3 separate regions of the Homo sapiens genome follow, and all the other regions are linked to region 3. Evidence: fine-mapped expression QTL. A gene starts in region 3. Each other region holds a variant in brackets. All regions are shown on one strand. Distances are between the middles of the regions. Region 1 overlaps CUBN (cubilin). Region 2 overlaps CUBN (cubilin). Region 3 holds the start of VIM (vimentin).

What was found. PIP is the estimated chance that this variant, and not a neighbour inherited with it, causes the effect.
Region 1: its variant is fine-mapped to the expression of VIM in whole blood (INTERVAL, PIP 0.99).
Region 2: its variant is fine-mapped to the expression of VIM in unexposed skin (GTEx, PIP 0.98).

Annotation. Positions count from the first base shown.
Region 1 is chr10:16,941,861-16,944,360 of GRCh38, forward strand. All of the region lies in intron 36 of CUBN (cubilin), which reads right to left. Among named protein-coding and RNA genes, the nearest start is that of RSU1, 130 kb to the left of the region's middle. The variant A/AGGAAG (reference allele first, on the strand shown) is at 1,003.
Region 2 is chr10:17,124,078-17,126,577 of GRCh38, forward strand. All of the region lies in intron 4 of CUBN (cubilin), which reads right to left. Among named protein-coding and RNA genes, the nearest start is that of CUBN, 4.5 kb to the right of the region's middle. The variant C/T (reference allele first, on the strand shown) is at 1,065.
Region 3 is chr10:17,226,653-17,229,305 of GRCh38, forward strand. VIM (vimentin) reads left to right here and starts at 1,589. Exons shown (of 10, transcript NM_003380.5): 1 at 1,589-1,872; 2 at 2,624-2,653. All of the region lies in intron 1 of VIM-AS1 (VIM antisense RNA 1), which reads right to left. RefSeq lists a silencer at 68-282.

The DNA of each region.
Region 1 (2,500 bases), 280 kb before region 3:
AAAAATGAAAAGGCAAGTTACAGACCGGGGTGGGGAAATGGGAGATAATCGTAAAGCATTTATCTAGCAAGGGACTCAAAGTTGAAATATAAAAGGAATTCCTACAGATAATGAAAAAACAACCAAATTAAAAGTGGACAAAGGGCTTGAACAGATATTCATAAAAGAAGACAAGAAAATGGCTACCAAGAATGTGAAAAGTACTCTGCATGATTAGTCATCAGAGCAATGCAACTTAAATACCACAGTCAGATATCATTCCACACCCATCATAAGGGCTAAAATTAAAAGGCTGACAAGATCAATTGTTGACAAGCGTGCAAAGCAACTGAAGTCTTATATATTCCTCGTGGGACTGCATACTGACATAGCCACTTTGAATAATTATTTGGGAGTTTCTCATAAAATTAAATGTACATCCAATTAATGCCCAGAAATTCCACCCCTAAATATATACCCAAAGAAAATAAAAACACATGACCAAGGTAGTATCCTGAATATAAAATAACTCCTGCAACTCGAAAATTAAAAACAAATAACCCAATTAAAATGGAAAACAAACCGAATACACATTTCTCCAAAGAAGATTTATGAATGGCCAATAAAAACATGAAAAGATTTTCAAACATTATTAGTCATTAGAGAAATGCAAATCAAAACCACAAAGAGATAACACTACAAACCACCAGGAAGACTATTATTTAAAAATAGAAAATAAGAAGTGCTGATGAGGATATGGAGAAATTAGAACTCTTACGCATTACTAACGGGAATGTAAAATAGTCCATCCCTATAAAAAAGTTTGGTGGTTCCTCAAAAAGTTAAACATAGTATTATCATATGAACCAGCAATTTCACTTCTAGGTTTATACCCCAATGAAATGAAAGCATGAACAAACAGGAAAGGGGAAAGGGTAAAGGAAAAAGGGAAGGGAAGGGAAGGGAAAAGGAAGGGAAGGGAAGGGAAAAGGAAGGGAAGGGGGAAGGGGAAGGGGAAGGGAA[A/AGGAAG]GGAAGGGAAGGGAAGGGAGGGGAACGGAAGGCAAGGGGAAGGGGAAGGGGAAAGGAAAGGAAAAATGTACTTCTCTGTCATGTGTATCTTTCTGTTAATGCTCAACATTATCCATGGCAAGATTTTACTTTATGCTAAGTATAGTGCTCCCCTGGGGCTCTATCTCAGCTAATGGAGGAGAATAGTTAGAGATAACCAGCCTGGAGGCTCTGACCACCTCAAGCCCTACCACTAATCAATATACCAGGCACATCTCTGGTCACTCCCTGCCTACCAGACCACAGGGGTGAAGTAACTGGTCAGCTCTGCTCTAACCTAGCTCTCAAGCCAGATACTAGCATTGGTAGGTCTCTAACCAAATCAGTAAGCCTGGTGGTAAGCTGGTGGCTCTCAGAATCCCACCAAGGTGGGTCACTACAGTATAGACCATCTGGACTAGACTAGATGGAATTTTCACAGCAAGCTATAACTGATAATTGAAATCAGGATATATCCACATCAGACAAAACAAACCACATATTTGTCTCCTTTGACAATCTGATGATTTATAACACAATATTTCTATCTTCAATCTTTTTTTTATTTTGCAAGGAATTGGTCTAAATCCATCTTTGGGATGGCTGCCAACTTTTGTGTATACATTCAGGCTCAATTTTATTACTCATAATATGATCAACAATGTGAAATACGCAAAATTGTTTTCTTCTGCTTCTCAGAAAGCAGAAAGGGAAGAAAGGGAGATCATTTTCCTCAGAACGTAAATTACACGAAGTTGCCTCTAAAATCTTTCTATGCAAAGTGCATAATCCAGCAACATCGGCATCACCGGAGAGCTTGTTTGAAACAAGGAATCTGGCCCCACCAACCAACTCAGTGAGAAAGTGAATTTCAGCAAGATCCTAGATGATCAACATGCACATTAGCATTCTGTCCGATGCTCCAGAAGATTACAAAGTGAAGGTCTTTTCTAAGTACTTGACTACTGCAATCCAGTGCTAGATGGCAGAAAAGACATTCCGTTGGACATGGTGGTAGGCAAATACCTAGAAGGATTAAATTAAACTATAAAAAAAGCTTTATTATGCTTGGAAGTCTTTGCTTTAGGCTGGTACATTTTATAAGCAACTACACCCTTTGGCTTAGATCTGTTAGTAAATGTAGGATGTGGAACAAAAATAGTACAATCACTGTTTCTTATTATCTCATTCTGATTCTTGAACTGAGACCTATCACTTTCTAAAAGCACTCTGCAAGTATAAAATACAATTTCTGTCAATTCCCTGCCCACCAAACCGCAGGGGTGAAGTAACTGGTCAGAAAGATTGCACTGCACTTTGAATAGAAAGATTTTAGAGACAACTGCATGTAATTTACCTTCTGAGGAAAATGATCTCCCTTTCTTCCCTTTCTGCTTTCTGAGAAGCAGAAGAAAACAATTTACCATATTCACATTTTTGGTCATATTATGGGTAATAAATGGTTAAATATATGTCTTAC
Region 2 (2,500 bases), 100 kb before region 3:
CCGGTTATTTTACCGGTGATTCTTATCTTTGGTCCCTCGAGGTGAGCCTTTGAAATATAATCATCTGCTGCTGCTGCCCCTCCTCCCATGGGTTAAGGTGACTGAACTCCTGCTCCAAGTCCCTTTGTTAGAAATGTGGCCAGCTAAGACATATCTTTCACCCTGGTGCTCACCTGACTGCTTTCAGCCCAGATCACAAACAGACCTACCTTTGTCTACATCTACATCTACATAACCTGGGGAATCTGACCCTATGTCAGCTACCAGTTTGAATCTTGTTAAGATTTTTACTGCCTTTGGGTGCAGAGAAAACTTCTTTTTTTTCTTTTTTCTTTTTTCTTTTCTTTTTGATTTTTTTTTCTTTTTTTTGAGACGGAGTCTTGCTCTGTCGCCCAGGCTGGAGTGCAGTGGCGCGATCTCCGCTCACTGCAGGCGCTGCCTCCTGGGTCCATGCCATTCTCCTGCCTCAGCCTCCTAAGTAGCTGGGACTACAGGCGCCCGCCACCACGCCCAGCTAATTTTTTGTATTTTTAGTAGAGACGGGGTTTCACCGTGTTAGCCAGGATGGTCTCGATCTCCTGACCTCGTGATCCGCCCGCCTCAGCCTCCTAAAGTGCTGGGATTACAGGTGTGAGCCACCGCGCCCAGCCAGAGAAAACTTCTTTAGAGGGAACACTTGATTATGCAATGATGGCCACTTTATGAATTTCACTCATAGTCCAATTGTCTGGGTTTTGGTTGGTATCGTTGTTTTGTTTGTTTGTTTGTTTTTGAGATGGAGCCTCGGTCTGTCACCCAGGCTGGAGTGCAGTGGTATGATCTCAGCTCACTGCAACCTCCACCTCTTGGGTTGAAGCGATTCTCATGCCTCAGCCTCCTCAGTAGCTGGGACTACAGGAATGTCCCACTACGCCTGGCTAATTTTCCTATTTTTAGTAGAGACAGGGTTCCACCATGTTGACCAGGCTGATCTCAAACTCCCGACCTCACATGATCCACCTGCCTCGGCCTCCTAAAGTGCTGGGATTACAGGCGTGAGCCACCGTACCCAACCTAATTCTCTG[C/T]TTTTAAAAAGTTAAAATAGGGGCAAACTGTTGATTACATTTCATATATATGTATGCACACACATACATATATATTATATATGTGTCTATATATATGCACATACATACACACACACATACAAATACAACATACTATATACAGTGACTCATAAAAAAAAATTACGTCTGTTTCCTTCATTTTATGGATGAAATAGAAAGCCAGAGGATAGCCAACTGACTCAATACCATTTTCTGCAAAGCACATTCCTTCTCCACTTTGGTCATAAATTAGATGACCACACGTCTGGGGGTCTCTTTATGAACCCTGTTTTATTCCATTATTCTATTTTTCTCTTTGTGCTAGCACAACAATTGGCTCTGTCCATCATAGAATGCTCTTTAAAACATTAACCACAAACTCATTCAAAGGTTTTCTGTCAGACAAAAGCAACACTGTCTGGGGACTAAAATCTTAAAAGCCTACAGGGGCCTAGTAGAAAATGAAATCAGGAGTCAGGAGGAAGACAATAGGGAGTGGTGGGGACTGTGGTGGCCAGAGAGCATTTGCCCTATCCAAAGGCACAAAGCATTCACATTTGAAAATCATTCAACATTCCTCCTGAGGGATGAGGGTAGGAGGACTGGCTGAGCGAATATAATGAAGCCCTCCAGGAGACAAAACTTGAGTGCAGTGTCACGGTCCACAGCACTATTCTTTACTCATTTTCTTTCGCTTAACTACTCTCTTAAAAATGACAGCTGAGGGGTCAATGTATTATCTAAGTGGAGAAAAGGAATACACGAACTTGATCATCAAATGACAAAAAGGTTTGCAGCAGCAATCCTTGCCAGAATGGTGGGACCTGCCTCAATCTGCATGAGTCCTTTTTTTTGTATCTGTCCTTCACAGTGGGACAGATCAAACTTAAAAGTAGAGGAAAATGCTTGAAGCATGAGCAAAACAGATGAAGAATATTTTTGCAGAAATTCTTACACTGGAATCCCCAGATTTTTATGCAAAATTTTAAACATGAAGAGATTCTGTACATTTCTCTGCATAGAAGGTTACAGCTTCCATGAAAGTCTTTAAAAGGTCAGCTTCCTACAAAAGGGGTAAGAAGCCTAAGTTTACATAGATCAGTCTACAAGCATGTAGTACAGTTATACAATGTTTTCTGTAAGAAACTGTTCAAGTTTAATTACCAGCAAATGTCATTTTAAGAAAATTCGGACTATTTTGTGATACACCTAGACTTCCGAGCTTAGCGTCAGAGAGGATGCTTGCTTTCCGAGCCCCAGTCCCTGATGGGAGAATCAGCAAGTTGGGAGATCACTAGCTGACCAAGCACAGCACACACAGCTAAAGGGTGATGGTAAAGGATGTGGGCTGTGGGCTGCAAACTCAGGGTCAGAAGCCCTAACAGGCTCGGAGACCTCAGCCTTGTCATTTCATCTGT
Region 3 (2,653 bases):
ATATATATATGTTGCCTAAGCTGGTCTCAAACTCCTGATCTCAAGCAATCCTCCTGCTTTGGCCTCCCAAAGTGCTGGGACTACAGAACACCTACACTTTTATACATTCTATATGCATCAAACAAACATATGTCTGTGACAAGAGAGCAGCCTATCACAGCCCAGAGACTTCAGAATGGGGACAGGTTGGAAGGAGGAGCTACCTATCCCTGAGATGATGAAGAGGACCAGTGCCCATTCCAGGAGACATCACCGCAGCCCTGAGGAATCGGCTATGGGCACCAGCAGGGCACAGTGCCACACCTCGCCAATGCCTTGTCCTCCTTTTCCATAGTGAGTCAGTCAGCAAGCGTCGCATTGCCCTGGGATCGGCACTGCACGTAGAAGTGAGTTCCACACTCTCTTCCTCCCATAGGGAGATCACTTTTCTCATTCTAAGGGTTCCAGGCACACTCACAATGGTGGCATTTGCTGAGCAGTGGCTTGAATAAAGGGCTCTCAGAAAGCAAGATGTAACTCAGAGCATAGGCTTGTCCTCCAGGGCACCCAGCCCCAGGAATGCTCTTGGGGAATGACCTGCAGCCTCCCAGTGAAAGAGAGAATAAAAGAAAGCCCCAGCAGGCGAGCTGGGCAGTAGAGAGTCCTGTAATTCCACCTTGGCAAGCACCATTTGCAAGAACGAACTGGGATAAGGTAAACAAAATATTGCCTAAAAGAGGCTTGTCCAAAGAAGTCAGAATACGCTCTTCATTTACCTCTAAATTATGTTTCTTAAATACCAAGTAACCTGCAGTACCCCCTGCCGCCACCAAAAAAAAAGAGAGAAATACTTTTTTTTCTCCTATCCACTGCAGAATCAATTTTACAGTGGTTCTGCAGTTAATCCTTTCAGTACACCATAAATCTAAATACTCAAAAAAACCTGTGCCTTTTCAATTGCTACTAAATCACGAGAAGACTGATTTACATAGTCTCCTTTTATCTCCCTTGGCGGGTAAGTACTCAGCTCTGCTCGTTACTAATATTGAAACAACAGCCCTTGAATTGAGTGATTTCCCTAGAAAGGTTAAGGTGACCGAATCTGAACACTCCCTCCATGTCTTGGACACGAAGTTTTTTGCTGCGTAGACAGTTTTATCCCCCTCACCCCAAGGTCAATTGCACGAATTCTTTTGGAAAACAGGACCTATGGCATTTCCCAGACAAATCACCGTGAACCCTGTACTGTGCATTGCTGTCCTAAAATTAACACATAAATCTATTGCCGCCAAAGATTCTGTCATTTGTGTTACATAATTGCCTTTCATTTGAACTCATTAATCAAATTGGGGTTTTTAAGCAACACCTAATTAATTCTTTAACTGGCTCATATTATACCTTTAATGACTTCCACCAGGGTAAAAACCACTGATCACTGAGTTCTATTTTGAAACTACGGACGTCGAGTTTCCTCTTTCACCCAGAATTTTCAGATCTTGTTTAAAAAGTTGGGTGTGGTTTCATGGGGGGAGGGGGAAGAGCGAGAGGAGACCAGAGGGACGGGGGCGGGGACTCTGCAAGAAAAACCTTCCCGGTGCAATCGTGATCTGGGAGGCCCACGTATGGCGCCTCTCCAAAGGCTGCAGAAGTTTCTTGCTAACAAAAAGTCCGCACATTCGAGCAAAGACAGGCTTTAGCGAGTTATTAAAAACTTAGGGGCGCTCTTGTCCCCCACAGGGCCCGACCGCACACAGCAAGGCGATGGCCCAGCTGTAAGTTGGTAGCACTGAGAACTAGCAGCGCGCGCGGAGCCCGCTGAGACTTGAATCAATCTGGTCTAACGGTTTCCCCTAAACCGCTAGGAGCCCTCAATCGGCGGGACAGCAGGGCGCGGTGAGTCACCGCCGGTGACTAAGCGACCCCACCCCTCTCCCTCGGGCTTTCCTCTGCCACCGCCGTCTCGCAACTCCCGCCGTCCGAAGCTGGACTGAGCCCGTTAGGTCCCTCGACAGAACCTCCCCTCCCCCCAACATCTCTCCGCCAAGGCAAGTCGATGGACAGAGGCGCGGGCCGGAGCAGCCCCCCTTTCCAAGCGGGCGGCGCGCGAGGCTGCGGCGAGGCCTGAGCCCTGCGTTCCTGCGCTGTGCGCGCCCCCACCCCGCGTTCCAATCTCAGGCGCTCTTTGTTTCTTTCTCCGCGACTTCAGATCTGAGGGATTCCTTACTCTTTCCTCTTCCCGCTCCTTTGCCCGCGGGTCTCCCCGCCTGACCGCAGCCCCGAGACCGCCGCGCACCTCCTCCCACGCCCCTTTGGCGTGGTGCCACCGGACCCCTCTGGTTCAGTCCCAGGCGGACCCCCCCCTCACCGCGCGACCCCGCCTTTTTCAGCACCCCAGGGTGAGCCCAGCTCAGACTATCATCCGGAAAGCCCCCAAAAGTCCCAGCCCAGCGCTGAAGTAACGGGACCATGCCCAGTCCCAGGCCCCGGAGCAGGAAGGCTCGAGGGCGCCCCCACCCCACCCGCCCACCCTCCCCGCTTCTCGCTAGGTCCCTATTGGCTGGCGCGCTCCGCGGCTGGGATGGCAGTGGGAGGGGACCCTCTTTCCTAACGGGGTTATAAAAACAGCGCCCTCGGCGGGGTCCAGTCCTCTGCCACTCTCGCTCCGAGGTCCCCG